Linked DNA regions of Homo sapiens: region 2 is linked to region 1. Evidence: fine-mapped expression QTL. Tissue or cell type: whole blood. Region 1 holds a variant in brackets; the other region holds the start of a gene. All regions are shown on one strand. Distances are from middle to middle.

What was found. PIP is the estimated chance that this variant, and not a neighbour inherited with it, causes the effect.
Region 2: PRDM4 starts here. The variant in region 1 is fine-mapped to the expression of PRDM4 in whole blood (INTERVAL, PIP above 0.99).

The regions. Positions count from the first base shown.
Region 1 is chr12:107,691,677-107,699,784 of GRCh38, forward strand. PWP1 (PWP1 homolog, endonuclein) reads left to right here. Exons shown (of 15, transcript NM_007062.3): 4 at 1,138-1,223; 5 at 1,324-1,420; 6 at 4,798-4,908; 7 at 5,791-5,921; 8 at 7,697-7,758. Among named protein-coding and RNA genes, the nearest start is that of PWP1, 9.9 kb to the left of the region's middle. The variant A/G (reference allele first, on the strand shown) is at 4,044.
Region 2 is chr12:107,756,853-107,764,960 of GRCh38, forward strand. It overlaps PRDM4 (PR/SET domain 4), which reads right to left and starts at 4,285. Exons shown (of 12, transcript NM_012406.4): 1 at 4,105-4,285; 2 at 3,653-3,919; 3 at 1-113. The coding sequence starts at 3,663. It overlaps PRDM4-AS1 (PRDM4 antisense RNA 1), which reads left to right. Exons shown (of 5, transcript NR_120474.1): 4 at 1,423-1,540; 5 at 2,920-3,116. RefSeq lists silencers at 3,836-3,945, 3,996-4,575.

The DNA.
Region 1 (8,108 bases):
TTATCGCTGGTGTACCTCTTTTCTTTCAGACAAGAAGTAACCCTGATTTCCTCACTCCATCTGAATTGATTTTTATTGTCATTTATCCATTTTTCCATCTAGATGTTCATTCCTCCGTTTTCCTCATTCGCTTGGCCATCTGTCCTATGGATTACTATTAACTTCATTTTTCATTATCTGCAGTACTTAGAAAGGAATCATTACCTCCATTTACCAGCGGCACACAGCTGGTGAAAGACGGTGCTGAGTTTTGACCACTCTCGGGCTCTAAAGCCTTCATTCTTTTCACTGCATCTTTTCTATAGATACAGTCCAGCAGAGGATAGTTTTTTCTATTGGACTCTGGGTTATGGGCTCCAACCTTGTTAGGGACAGAGTGCCATAGAAATACAGAGAAACAAATAACCCAGCCTGGAGAGATGGCATTCAGAATCAGCTCTTTCTCGTGTAGCAGAAATTGCTTTCTCTGTTGCATATCAGATGTTTAAGACCTATCAGTCCTGCCTCCTTAAAGTGGCTTCCTCTAACAATTCAGTGTATCTTCCTTTTCCTGAGTTATCCTTTGTTACCATCGTAGATGTGCCATAAAAGAATAATTTAAGTTCAGTGGAAAAAGCATACTGCATTTCTTTTTTCATATGCCAATAAGGCATATTAGCATATCAGAACACGTGCAGTAGAGCAACCTGGTTAATTTTTTGAAACCTGTCATTTCTCAATTTTATTTGACCAGGCAACCCTTATTTATTATGTTGATTTCAGTGTTTCAGGGTCATTTTATTTCCAGGTCCTCAAGGCTGCCTCTCCGTATCACCTTCAATCATGAATGCAGGGAGCTAGCTAGAGAATCTCAAGAGAGTTCTCATATTTTCTAAAAGGGTCTAATTCCCTGATACAGTTCTTTCATTGGAAGATTGTGAATTCCAAGACTGTCTGAAATCCATTCCAAAGGTCAAATACAAAAATGGCTTTTAAATTCCTGCTGCTGCTTACGTAGTTTCCTTTCCCAACTCTAGATGATCCAGAGTTAGTTATAAAATAGATGATTGCATCTAAGTCCAAGAATGGATGTCATAGGAAATATGTTTTTGTCAAGATGACTATTTTATTATTGTAGTTTGTCAATTTTTCTTACAGATGCTGAGACTCTTGGTGAATCTCTCTTGGGTCTTACGGTCTACGGGAGTAATGATCAAGATCCTTACGTTACTCTGAAAGATACAGTAAGTATTTACATCTTTTTTCTAATTATGCTCTTAAGTGTTCAAAAAACCTTACTGGCTCTCTGCTTCTAGTCAATGACATTTTTTTCCTCTCACTTAGGAACAATATGAACGTGAAGATTTCTTGATTAAGCCCAGTGATAATCTTATAGTTTGTGGCCGAGCTGAACAGGACCAGTGCAATTTAGAGGTGCATGGTAAGTGATAAATCCCTTATTAAAAGATTTTCTAAGTGATGGTAAAATAATAAGTGAAATAGTTACCATTTCATTTTTAGGTGCCAGATCCTATTGTATCTCATTTAAGTTGGTTACATAGTTAACTTTTACACAGGTGGCCAATTTCTTGGTTATTGTTCTGGGTATGTGTAGTCCAGTACATCACTTTGGTATCTGAATTTTCTATGGAAATAAATCCCCTGGAAATTTTTCATAGGGGTGTTTTTTTTTGTTTTTATATATAAACAGGGTCTCACTGTGTTGCCCAGGCTGTCTCGAACTCCTGGGCTGACGTAATCCTGATTTGGCCTCCCAAAGTGCTGGGTGCTGGATTACAGGTGTGAGCCACCACACCTGGCCTCATAGAGGTTTTTAATCTTTTATTTAAATGTGATTGCCTGTTTTTCACTCCTCTCCTACTCCTGCTATAAAAAACCTGGAAGTAAAATTATATATAAAAATACAAGGCTGGGTGCGGTGTCTCACACCTGTAATCCCAGTACTTTGGGAGGCTGAGGTGGGAGGATTGCTCGAGCCCATGAGTTCTAGGCTACAGTGAGCTGTGATTCTGTTTGCTCCACTGTACTCCAGCCTGGGTGACAAAGACCCCATCTCTAGGGGAGAAAAAAATGTATAATCCCATTTCCCTGAGTTAATAACTTGCCACCTTGGTTTTTTACTCAATTTTTTTTTCTGGCTACTTTTTCTTTATGTGGATTATACTGGATAGACAGGTTTTTCTCATGTTTTTTAAATAGAGTTATTTCAGATATTTCCCCTTTGCAAAACATTTTATTTTCTTCCTAATAATTCAACACAAAGGGCCACGTTTCTTTTTTGGAACCAAAACATCGTGATCACCTTTCTTACTTAAGGAATATTTGTATCAAAGCCAGAAGCGGATGCTTTGCAGTAATCAGAAGTAGGCATGAAAATAGGAATTTTTAAATTGTATTTTTAAATGTTGTTTTTGATTTAATATTAATTGAATGGCTTGCCTCACTTTGGTGTTTTTAATGTAAAATCTGTTTTTTATATGCTAAAAGTAGACTTGCACAATGTCTGGCGCACTCTGCCTACAGATTCTCCGTTTTGTTTTTCTTGTCCCTTCCACTGCGCTCATATCCTCAGACAAGTCCATCCTTGCCCGATACTCTCCTCCCCCAGCAGTCTTCAGATCGTCTTGAAACTTTGAAGATTCGAAGAGATTATTAGGCTGATAAGTCCTTTTGTTATAGGAAACACAGTTGCACAGCTTGAAAAAATAAAACCCTTAGGCTTAATGTTTATCGCCATCTTCTAGGTTGCTTCATCATGGCTTCCATTGATTAGCTTGGATTTCTGTTACCTCTTCAGAATCTTTAAGGCTGTCCGTGGGAAGCCTATAGATTAGGCCCATTTTATCTCATGGCTCATTGTGATCTGTTTATGCATAGCAGGCACTTTAATGTGAAATTATTCTTTCTAACTCTTGATATCTTTGAACTTTTACATATTTCAAATGAAAACCATTTGTTTACTTTGCTTTTAAGACCAATTCTAATTTCAAAAAATTGAGAACCTATTAGAGTTTTTTTTGTCATCATCGATTTTTTTATGCATTCTTACCTGAGAACTTAACAGTCATTCCTTTGAACTCAGGATCAAAGAGGAGCTGAGAAAGAAGTTAAAGCTGTTATATTTCCATTTCCTTCTCAGTTAGGTTATTATAGATATACTTTATTATTTGGGTTTGGAAGGAATCTCCAAATTGCCCAGTATGTGTGTGCAAGAATAACTTCAAATTTATATTCTAAAACTGATCCGAATATTGATCTCACGTGGTTAAGAGTATATTTTAAAGTATTATTACCAGTTGCTGGGCGTAGTGACTCATGCTTGTAATCCCAGCAATTTGGGAGGCCAAGGCGGGCGGATCACGAGTTCAGGAGATCGAGACCATCCTGGCTAACACGGTAAAACCCAGTCTCTACTAAAAATACAAAAAAAAAAAAAAAAATCAGCCAGGCGTGGTGGCGGGCGCCTGTAGTCCCAGCTACTCGGGAGGCTGAGGCAGGAGAATGGCGTGAACCTGGGAGGCAGGGCTTGCAGTGGGCTGAGATCGTGTCACTGCACTCCAGCCTGGGCGACAGAGCAAGACTCCATCTCAAAAAAAAAAAAGTTATTACCAATTTTATGTAAAATGTAAGCTGAGTATATCGAACATGGTTGAGGTTTTTGTAGAACCACAGTCTAATAATTTTGAACATGAATTCTCATCACAGGGATGTGATAGAGCATTACACAAATCTGCTAATCCCAGGATCTATTCCAGAAGCAGCAATCTGAGGAATTAAAAATAAAATCCTTAATTTATTATATATTTACCTCCTTCTTAATACAAAGCATATGGGGAGGGGTTCTGACTAGTGGGTTCTGTTTTATCAGTGTTTCACTGTGTAATTTTTAAAAGACTTCTTACTCATTGATTTTACAATGTTTTTGCTGCTTAACATTACAGCTGTGAATATTAAGGAGCTGTTGCCATATTCCAAAAGTATGTCCTCAGGAGCTTTGTTTACATTGTTCATCTTCATAAACCTTTTTTAAAAATATTAAGAGT[A/G]ATTTTTGATAAGCATTTAGATTTCCAAATATGAATTATTTCTCTCCCATGCTATTTTTGGTTTGTTCTTTTTGACTTATAATCAGCTAGACCATTAAAAGATAAAATAATAACTACTTCTTGTAGTTATGAACATTATGAACTTATGAACATTTGTTTTCTATGAATGACCTAGAAGACAGGACCATTTATCTGACAAGGATGCAGGTGGACTATCAGATGTCAGTGTTCATTTTCTCCTGTGGGGTATGCCACAAGATGGCACTGTATTAGACATGCAGAATTTTTGCCTAGTCATGATATTGGAATCTTTTTTTTTTTTTTTTTTTTTGAGATAGAGTCTCACTATGTCGCCCAGGCTGGAGTGCAGTGGTGCGATCTCAGCTCACTGCAACCTCCACCTCCCAGGTTCAAGCTATTCTCCTGCCTCAGCCTCCCTAGTAGCTGGGACTACAGGCACGTACCACCACACCCAGCTAATTTTTGTATTTTGAGTAGAGACGAGGTTTCATTGTGTTGGCCAGGCTGGTCTCGAACTCCTGACCTCAAGTGATCCGCCCACCTTGGCCTCCCAAAGTATTGGGATTACAGGCACGAGCCACTGCGCCCAGCCTGGAATCTCTTTATAATATCAGATGTCTCACTTTAAAGCACATGGCTCACGTACATTTAATAGAATTTGTTTTTTTGAGCGGGATGTGATTTTTGATGACTCATTCTGATACATTAAAGTCTCTTTTCCCAATCTTTTCAGTTTATAATCAAGAAGAAGACTCTTTTTATGTACACCATGATATACTCTTGTCTGCATATCCTCTGAGTGTGGAATGGCTGAATTTTGATCCTAGCCCAGATGATTCTACTGGTAATTAGAAAACTTAAGGTTGTTCAATGATTTCCAGTCTTATGTATTTTCTCCTAGCTCCATAAATTATGTATTCTCTTGAATGTTTTCAGAATTGTTGCTGATATTTTCTGAAGTTACTGTTATTTTATGAAGTTATAGAGTTCTTAACACACCATCACTTTATTGTTTGGGGTTCATAAATCCCCAGACTTCAGGTAGGCTAAGGAGGTAGCTGCTCTACTACAGGCTGAAGGACAGGGCCTGAAGCCTTTTGGACTGTAGAACTGTAAAGGTCCCATAAAGACTCAGTATAAATGGCCTGATATGTGAGATGTTACCAGCTAGAGTTCAGTGGCATAACCTGTTTTAGAAAACATAAGCTAAAACCGAAATGAAGAGGCTTGTCACAAGTAATTAGGTTTTCATGTTAGTCTTTGTAACCACATCTGCACACTATTAGTTGCCCCTGTCCGTACTTTTTAATAAAGGTAAACACTGTTTATACTGTCTTACGTCTTGTTTGCACACCTTGTTCACATTCATGATCTGATCTGATCTTCATCCCCACAGCACCCCATGAAGGAGGACGGGAGGAGGGTTATTCTCGTTATATAAATGAAAACACTGGGGCCAAGAGATTGAGCCTTTCCTACTCAAATTGTGGCCCAAAGACCAGCAGCAGCACAGCATGGTTATCACCTGTGACCTAGTTAGAAATGCCCACCCAGAACCACCTGAAATACAATCTGCATTTGTAACATTCAGATGCCGCATATGCATATAAGTTTGAGAAGCACTGCTCTAAAGCATTTTTCAGTTAATCTACAGTATAATGTATTTGATTAGAAGTTCTGTATGTCTTTTTTTGTGTAATCATACATGCATTGTTTCCTCCCATAGGAAATTACATTGCTGTAGGAAACATGACCCCTGTTATTGAAGTGTGGGACCTTGATATAGTGGACTCTTTAGAGCCAGTCTTCACACTCGGAAGTAAACTTTCAAAAAAGAAGAAAAAGAAAGGAAAGAAGGTAAAGAAGTTAATAAATATTTAAACTCTAATGACAGAGGTAAGTTTACTCGGGAGTAGGGGTGAAGGGTAAGACCGTACACTTTTTCAATCAGGTATTCTTGGTGAGATGGGGTAGGTAGTTATGAAATTATTGTAATTTTTAGTTTTGAAAAGGCCATCCAAAGAAAACTTATTTCTGATTACATAAAACCTCCATTATCATGTTGTTCTTTCTTACACAAAACTAGTTCAAAGCTAGTATATTAATATGAATAGCTACTATAGATGAAGGACTTTCGGATTATGAGCCTCCTCCAAATACAGTAGCTATTTATACAGATATACCAACCTTGAACTTTAAAAAAATTTCTGTTATCATGTTGAATTCTAATTATCCATGTATTAACTCCTGCAGCTTTTAAAATCGTTAGGTTTTATGAGGGTTGGGAGCTATATTGATACTTGTATAATTACAGTACCTAGATTAAGAACTGCTAGGCCAGGCCACGCACGTGGCTCACTCCTGTAATCCCAGCAGTTTAGGAGGCTGAGGCGGGTGGATCACCTGAGGTCAGGAGTTCGAGACCAGCCTGGCCAACATGGTGAAACCCTGTCTCTACTAAATATACAAAAATTAGCCAGGCATGTTGGTGTGTTCCTGTAATCCCAGCTACTTGGGAGGCTGAGGCAGGAGAATCACTTGAACCTGGGAGGCAGAGGTTGCAGTGAGCTCACACCACTGCACTCCAGCCTGTGTGACAGAGCGAGACTCTGTCTCAAGGGAAAAAAAAGAACTGCTAGGCCAGTCATAGTAGCTCACGCCTATAGTCCTAGCACTTTGGGAGGCCAAGGTGGGAGGAGTGCTTGAGCCCAGGAGGTTGAGGTTGCAGTGAGCCATGATTGTGTGCCACTGCACTCCAACCTGGGTGACAGAGCGAGATTTTGTCTCTAAAAAAATAAACTACTATAGTTTCTTCCCTGTTCCTTGTAATGAAATTTTTTTCTTTATTTTTCTTTTTTAAAGAGGTAAGGTCTTGCTCTGTCTCCCAAGACTGGAGTGCAGTGGCACGATTATAGTTCACTGCAGCCTGAAACGCCTAGGCTCAAGAGATCCTGGGATTCTCCTGCCTCAGCTTCCTGAGTAGCTGGGACTATAGGCGTATGCTGCCATGCCTGGCTAAGTTTTGACTTTTTTGTAAAGACAGAGTTTCGCTATGTTGCCTGGGCTGGTCTCGAACTCCCGGCCTCAAGCGATGTTCCCACGTTAGCTTCCCAAGGTCCTGGGATTACAGTGTGGGCCGCTGCACCCAGCCCCTGTAATGAAATTAATCATGAGTCTCTAACAGGGAGACAAGGTTTTATTTATTTTATTCTTCAAAAGTTTATATAATATCAAAACAATAGGTCGGGTGCAGTAGCTCACACCTGTAATCCCAACACTTTGGGAGGCCGAGAGTGGATCATGAGGTCAGGAGTTCCTGACCACCCTGGCCAACGTGGCAAAACCCTGTCTCCACAAAAAATATAAAAATTAGCTGGGCATGGTGGCATGCGCGTGTAATCCCAGCTACTTGAGAGGCTGAGGCAGGAGAATCGCTTGAATCCAGGAGGTGGAGGTTGCAGTGAGCTGAGATCGTGCAACTGCACTCTAGCCAGGGCAACAGACAAAGACTCCGTCTCAAAACAAAACAAAACAAAATAATCTTAAGGTTTAAAGAATTTTGCAGATTAATATATTCAGTTTTATTATGAGGGGGACTTTAATACAAAAAATAATTAAAACAATTATTACAGAGTTCCTCAGCAGAAGGGCATACCGATGCTGTCCTTGACCTTTCATGGAATAAGCTAATCAGGTAAAAAGAAATAACATTTGAATGATTGTAAAAGACTGTAGCCATTGTGATCTTACCTCATGCCTACACTCATCTCTTTATTTGTGCTGTGGACCTTTGTGTCTATCTTCCTTTCTTGTAGGATGCCCTGCTTGCAGGCAGGAGCTCTGTCATCTGTTTCTTTGCATCCTCCAGGTCACCTGCCAGCTCATCACTGTGGGTGCTCATTGCATGTTTGGTGACCAAGTGCCCTCTCTCCACCACCACTGGAAAAAAACAGGGTGTTTGGCAGTGCCCATGGTGCAGTAGGATTGTGTTTCTTCCCAGGAGACATTTTTCTCTGTTTAGTTTTCACATCTCACCACATACTC
Region 2 (8,108 bases), 65 kb after region 1:
GAGTGGGTGAGGCAGCCAATCCCAGGTGACTTCCTGAGACTGGCAAGGCATTGCTCACAGAGGATGAAGTCAGCTGCTCCATCCCCACTGGACTCAGGTTCATTTCATTCATCCTAGAAAAGAGCACACACAACTAGTTATGCAAAAATTTACTCCAATGACTCTGTATTAAGATACTGAAGAAACTGAAACAGTGGGGATGGGGAAATGGGACTTGGCCAACTATTAGTTCACTTTTACGCTCAACAATTCTCTTAGATAGCTAGTGCCATATTCTTTCTACTGATAAGAAAACTGAGATTGAGACATTAAAAACTCAATTCAATGTCACATAGCAGAAATAGGATTTGAATTCTGCCTTGTTCGAAACTCTAGGCACACCATCTAAAGCAAAGTCTGCAATTCTTAGAGCACAATGGCAATGACAGTTTTTTTTTAAATCACTCAAGCTTCATCTTTTATAATATTTATTTTTCTCCAAATGGCTTATTATTTCAAACCAGTAGTGTTTTAGGCAGCGCATTTTAACCTACTCAAGTAAATTTTACTAATCATTTTTAATAGGAGTTAAAGATCCAGATTATCGATGATGTGAAAAGCATCGTATTTTCCCCATTCAGCAACAGTTTACTAAGATTCTGTATCAGTATATTAATGTCCTCCAAATATTGAGGGTCATTATGTAAGCTTTGCTACCACTTCACTTAAAATGACTTCAAATCCTCACACCAATACTGCAACGTAAGATAGATGAGGGAACTATGGCTCAGAGAGGCCATGTCATATGCCCCAAATCACATAGCTATTAAGTGAAAGATCACAGATCAAACTGCAAAACACTGCCAAAAAGTTTTTCATTGCACCAAACTTTTTTTTAACTGCACCAAACTTTTTTTTTAACTACAGACTATTTTTGGCAAGGTGAAGAACCTAGGAATCACCTTTTCTATGCAAACCATCTTGCACTGCCATTACAAATGTCTTTCGAATAAGAGTAATACTGATTTGAATAAAACAGCACTGAAGGTTGTTATCAAAAAGTATTAGTTCTTATATCATAATTTAGAGACTGCCATACTATAAACATTACAGAACCACTAGGCTAGCCAACAGGTTACCCAAAAGGGGCTCTCTAATGACCTCCAGTCCTTACACTGGGCTTTATTCTCTGCGTATGGGAGGGGGTGAAGCAGAGAAGAGGAATCAAATGAGGTTACATATTCCTTAGCAGTGAAATCAAATCTAAATAGGTTTTTAATTCTGAAAAATGGCAATGCCATTTTATCAATCAACCTGAAAATAATAATAGCTAAAATTTATGGCTCCCTTACCATGTGCTATGTATTGGGCTAAGTGATTTATATGTAACTATCTCTCTTAATCTTCTTTTTTTTTTTTTTTTTTTTTTTGTTTTTGAGACAGGGTCTTGCTCAGTAGCTGCAAGCTGGAGTGCAGTGGCGTGATCACAGCTGACTGCTGCCTCTACCTCCTAGGCTCATGAGATCTTCCCACCTCAGCCCCCAAGCAGCTGGGACCACAGGCAAGTGCCACCATGCCTGGCTAATTTGTTTTTATTTTGCAGAGATGGGGTCTCCCTATGTTGCCCAGGCTGGAGGTAGGTATTATTCTTAATCCCACTTTAAAGATGAGGAAACTTAAGATTCAATGATGCTAGGAAACTTAACCCAGAATCACATAACCAGTAAGGAGAGCTGGGATTTAAATTCAGAACTAATTTAAGAAACCAAAGCTCTTAACTATAGTAAGAAAAAGACAATTACAATAAAAGAACTATATTGCCTTTTACACAGTTGCAATACATTAGGGCCTATCTACTTATATTGTGGCGTATATTTAAAGTTCCACATAGACCTGTTTCTTGCATTATTAGGTTTCACCCTTATCCCTGGCCATGGATCCCATAAAACTAAGCTCTAAGACATCAATAAAATGTAAAAGGCCAACCTAGTACCTTGTATAGAACAGACATTCTGAATTTTCTTATTTTATCGGATGGAGCTATGCAAACTCATCACCCTTACCAGAAAGACAGCTAGAAGCACCTGGCAAATGAGGTACACCTTATGAAGAACAGCATGCTAATAACAGTTTTTATTATGCTATAAAATAAAGCAGCCCAGGTGTGGTGATTTACACCTGTAATCCCACACTTTGGGAGGCCAAGGCAGAAGGATCGCTTGAGCCCAGGACTTGGAGACGTCCCTAGGCAACACAGTGAGACCCCTGTCTCTACTAAACATTTTTTTTAACTTAGCCAGGCATGGTGGTTCGTGCTTGTGGTTCCAACTACAGGGGAGGCTGAAGTGGGGAGGTCGGGGCTACAGTGAGCTCTGCCTGTACCTCTACACGCCAGCTGGGGTGACAGAGTGAGACTGTGTCTTAAAAACAAAAAAAGCAAAAAATCCCTGTAGCCTAAAGAAAACATATCTACCTTAATTTTGAAAGTTGCTGGGCTTGAGTTGGTTTAAAACAGACTTTTCCCTAACTCTTTATAGCTACAACCATAATTAAAACACTACAATCACTACAGCTGTAACAGCCTACTTAACAAATTGGTTACAATATTTTTTTAAAAGTACAACTACAAGTCTGCACCTTCAACTCTCATTCTGAAAATTCCTGAATATTTATTTAATTTCAAGATAAAAATCAGCATGGTGTTTCTAGGTTGACTCCTAGGCCTTCTCAAACCAGTTCAAACCAGAGTTTAATGCGAGAGGCTCAGCAGATTTCTGCTTTGTTGTGAGTCACTAAAACGTGATGACCTCAGCAGCCATAAACCAAAGGTAATGAGTATCCCACAGAGAGAAGGCAGATGAAGGGAATGTACAATATGATCCTCATAAGACTTTCTCATTCTAAAATGCAGTTCTATTCTCATTTTCTTTCTCCTATGAGATTCTAAGAAGCAATCCCGGAAGAAGGCAAGAATCAAGATACTAAGCTCTATCTTCCCTACTCATTTAGGGTAAAATAATTTCCTACACAGTTCTACAGTTTATGTGTGTGTTTCTAACTGACCTATGCAACCATCTGCCAGTTGCTGATTTTACACCTTTTTCTTCGCATAAAATATAATAAACTAACTGAAATGCAGCCACTTTGAAAAATGCAGTGGGGCTTCAATAATTTCAATGAATTTGTGCCTTATCTTCCTTATTCTAAACATACGGCCTTTGAAAGGGCCTTGAAAAAACAGCCAAATGCAACAATTTCTGTGGCCTGCTTCTGTACTTAAACATCAGCATGAAGCTTGCAGAATTAAGAACTTAATTCCCTCACTATCGTCCCTGCCATACCAGCAAAACTCAAGGTGAAGCATAATAAGATAACAATACACGTTGGAATCCGGAAAAATATATTAAACGCTCAAATAACTGAAAGACACAGGAAAAGGTGTCAACAAGCCAACAATAAACGTGTGGCTACTGGGAACAACTTTCCACATGTGGAGTAAATTAGGATGCATGAGATTACATTCCACCCAACACTAGTTTCTGGATTTGTTTCCTTTGCAAATCACACCTGTAACCTTCTCAATGGCACCAAAAACAACGGCACTGACCCTGGACACTCACTCGCCAGAGTTTCCAACGATGTCACCAGTGCTGAAGCCCACCTCCCTACTCACCTGTGATGCATCGGCTTGGGGCCAAATATCAGAGAAAGGAGCGCTCGGGTGGTGGGGAACAGGCATCAGGGTTTGCGTTCCAGGGTCACGTGCTACCACATCTTGCTCACAACCGCTGCACCGACGCGGCCACTCGTCCCCGGGGTCGCCCGGGGCCGCCCAACTTCTCCCGAGGGCCGGTGGCCGTGCACCCCGCCACGGGTTGGGGCATCTCGGGGAACACCTGGGGCCTTCCGTCCAGAAGCTTCGGGAAGGGGGCTGCCCAACCTGGGGGAGTGGGGACAAGAGCGGTCACCAAAACCACAACAAGGTCGCAGCCCCCATCCCAGCTACCCGAAAGCCCCAGGCGCTGCCGACACCGCCACCCAAGGGCTGTGGATTAGCCCGCCCGCGGCCCGCAGGCCGGGCCGCCGCGCCCCGCCCCGCTCCGGCCGGGCCCGCGCGCAGCCCACCTGCCAGCTGCGCTGGGGGCGCACGCGCCTGCCCCACTGCTTTGTTCCTCATCCGGGCAGAGTTCGCCTCGGGGCCCTGCCCGTCCGCTCGGCCCCCTCACCCCGGGGGCCGCTGCCCTAACGTTTCCCGTCCCGCCCGGCCCTTCCCGGCCCGCGGCCTCCTCTGGGCCGCACCCTCTGCGGCGCGTTTCCGGATCCTCAGCCACTCTCAGCGCCCGCCGCTCCGCCCCTCGTGCGTGCGCCCTCCCCGCCGCGGCCCGCAAGCGGCGCCCGCGCACCGCGTCGCCCTTCTCCCAGCCCAGGCCCCTCCGCGCGTGCGCACGGCAGAGGCACTGGCCGCGAGAGGCTCGGCCGGGAGTTCCGCGTCTCCATCCGGCCGGGTAGAATCGAGCGCCGAGCGATCGGCCCATGGTTGCTAGGCGACCAGGGCTGCTGTTCCTGCAGGGATTGAGTTTTGAATCCCCTAAATCCCGCAGACTCAGGATTTCGTCTTCATGACATTCCCCTACTAGAGAAGCATGGGTCCACACAAAGCCCCCAAAATTCGAAGTATGGGATTTGGCCCCGAGGGTTGCCTCTGCTGCCCAGGAGGAATTGGGATTCTATCCTGAATATTTTCGGCCGTCTGCTACACCTGAAGGCTGCCCAGTTTCCCTGCTTCCCGTCGTAAATGCTGGGGTTTGGGATTTTAAACAAAATTTCCTTCCCCTTTTCTCTGCCCTCAGTTCTCTACTGCGCGCCAGGCACTGTGCCTAACGCTAGGAGTACCGAGATGGCTTTAAAGGAAGGTGGTCCCAAGCTCCTGAGCAGTAGACGTTGAAATTACACCACACTGCCTGGTGGCTCCCTTACACCAGCAGAACAGCAGACCCAGGAATTCTTCCTGTCATTCACAAAGCGTCTGTTGAATTACATCTCAAACCTAGGGATACAGAGCAAGGCACAAGCCCTGACCTTCACCTGCCTGCAGTCTAGTGGGAACTGATGAATTTTGAAAATTCAGTCTAATGTGAAAGGGTAGAGGCACATGCAACCTTTTGGACGAGAGCTGGGAGGGGTGTCAACCCCCATAATGTTTCCCTTCGTTTACTTCTCATGGGGGGAAAGCACATTCCAGATGAGGAAACTTCACTGAACATTGGCAGGCAGGTCACATTGGTTTTGCTCTCTGTTGACAACAAATAGAAATCTAAATCAAGAAGGTCATCATCTCAACTGAGAGACAGTATTCCCTGAAATGCCACTTCAAATCTGGAGCCTAGAGAATGATGATGTATCTTATTACCGGCCGAATGCTTTCACTAGGTTTGGGTTTGGATGTCTGTTCTTTTGGAACAATTTTATTAAGTTGAGAGGTGAACATAAAAATCAGGTCACATAAATGTAAGAGCTAAAACCATAATACTTACAGAGGAAAATAAAGGCAAAAATCTTTGTGACCTTGATAGGACAAAAAAATCACAAACTATTAAAAAATTGGAGCAAGTGCAGTGGCTCTCTCCTCAGCACTTTGGGAAGCTGAGGTAGGAGGATCGCTTGAGCCCAGGAGTTTGAGACCATCCTGGGCAACAAAGTGAGACCCTGTCTCTACAAAAAATAAAAAAAATTAGCTGGGCATGGTGGTATGCACGTGTAGCCCCAGCTACTTGGGAGGCTGAGACAGGAGGATAGCTTGTGCCCAGGAGTATGAGGTTGCAATGAGCTAAGATTGTGCCACTGCACTCCAGCTCAGGTGACAGAGAGAGACCCTATCTCAAAAAAAAAAATGACAAATCGAACTTCATCAAAATTAAAATGGTTGATCTTGAAAAGATACTGTCAACAAAATGAGTCAAGTGAGAGACTGGGAGAAAATATTTTCAAAACAAATATCTGACAAAGGATTTGTATCTTGACTATATAAAGAACCCTTTAAACACAATAATAAGAAGACAATTAAATTTAAAAACTTAGGCAAAAATTTCAACAGCCATTTCACCAAAGAAGCTATATGGATGGCGATTAAGCACACAAAAAGATGTGCAGCATCATTAGGTATCAAAGAAATGCAAATCAAAGCACAATGAAGTGATATTACACACTTACTAGAATGGCTTCAATTAAAAAGACCAACTATAACAAGTGTTGGCACAGATATGGAGCAACTGGCACCCTCACATTTTGTTGGTGGGAATGCAAAAAAAATGCCACAGCCATTTTAGAATTTCTTTCTTTTTTCTTTCTCTCTTTTTTTTTTTAGACAGAGTTTCACTGTCACCCAGGCTGGAGTGCTGTGCTGTGGTCTCAGCTCACTGCAGCCTCTGCCTGCTGGGTTCAAGTGATTCTCCTGCCTCAGCTTCCCCAGTAGCTGGGATTACAGGTGCTCACCAGCATGCCTGGCGAACTTTTGTATTTTTAGTAGAGATGGGGTTTCACCATGTTGGCCAAGCCGGTTGCGAACTCCTGACCTCAAGTGATCCACCTGCCTTAGCCTCCCAAAGTGCTGGGATTACAGGCATGAGCAACCATGCCTGGCCAGCAATTTCTTATACCTCTTATACCATCCAATTCTCCACACTCCTTAGGTATTTACCAAAGAAAAATAAAAACATATGTACAAAGACTTGTACGCCAATGTCCATAGCTGCGTTATCTGTCATAGGCCAGAACAGGAAATGACCCAAATGTCCATCAACTGGTAAATGAATAATGATAGTGTACAGTATCTATACAGTGGAATACTCAGAAATAAAAAGGAACAAGCTGTTGATACATGGATGGATCTCAAAGACGTATTATGCTAAGTGAAAGGAACCAGACACAATAGACTACATATTATGAGTCCAGGTATGAGAAATTCTAGAAAAGGCAAAACTGTAGTAATAGAAAGCAGAGAAGTGATTGTCAGAAGTTGGGAATGGGTTGGGGGATGAGATTGCCTACAGTGGGGGCATAAGAGAACTTTTAGGAGTGATGAAAATGGTCTTGATTGTGGTAGAGGTTACACAATTGTATACATCTGTCCAAATTAATCAAATAGTAAACTTGACATTGGTGAATTTTATTGTATGTAAAAATACCTCAAAAATTCAATTAAAAAATTATGTCAAGATTAACAAAAATTGAAGTGTTCTGACTCTACTCCCCAGACTAGGCCCACTGTATGCTCTCTCATAGTACCTATCTTTATTGTAATTAATTGTTTAATTTTCTATTTTGCCAAATACATTTTAAATTTTGGGGAGAAGATTCATGTCTATCTTATTTAATGCTATACAACATAGCACTATACCTGGCATATATTAGATATTCAATGAATTTCTGATGCCTGAGGGAAAGTCAAACTGGCATAATTTGAAGCCACACATATTGACTCATATATCTATTTACTTGGAGATGTACAGCAAATGTTTGCTCAAAGATTGCCTTAACTGCTGATTTAGGGTGACTTACCCCTTTAAGGAGACTCCATGGTGCTGTTAAGACAATAAAGACAATGGAAAGGCCAGACACAGTGGCTCACACCGGTAATCCTAGCACTTTGGGAAGCCAAGTCTGGTGGATTTCTTGAGTCCAGGAGTTCAAGATCAGCCTGAGCAACATGATGAAACCTTGTCTTTACAAAAATCAGCCCGGTATGATGGTACATGCCTGTGGTCCCAGCTACTTGGGAGGCTGAGGTAGAAGGATACTTTGAGCCTGGGAGGTTGATACTGCAGTGAGCTGTGATCAGGCCACAGCCACTGCACTCTGGCCTGGGCGACAGGGCAAGACACTTCCTCAAACAACAACAACAACAAAAATGGGAGAAACTGGCCAATCACACAGGTAGAAATGAAGAGCGTCGGTGTGGCAGAACAATGAGGATATGTTCTGAGGAATGCAACCTTAGGTGATTCTGTGGTTGTGCAAACATCATAGAGTGCCCTTACATATACCTAGATGGTCTAACCTACTACACCCCTAGGCTAGATGGTATGGCCTATAGCTCCTAGGCTACAAACCTGCACAGCATGTTACTGTAC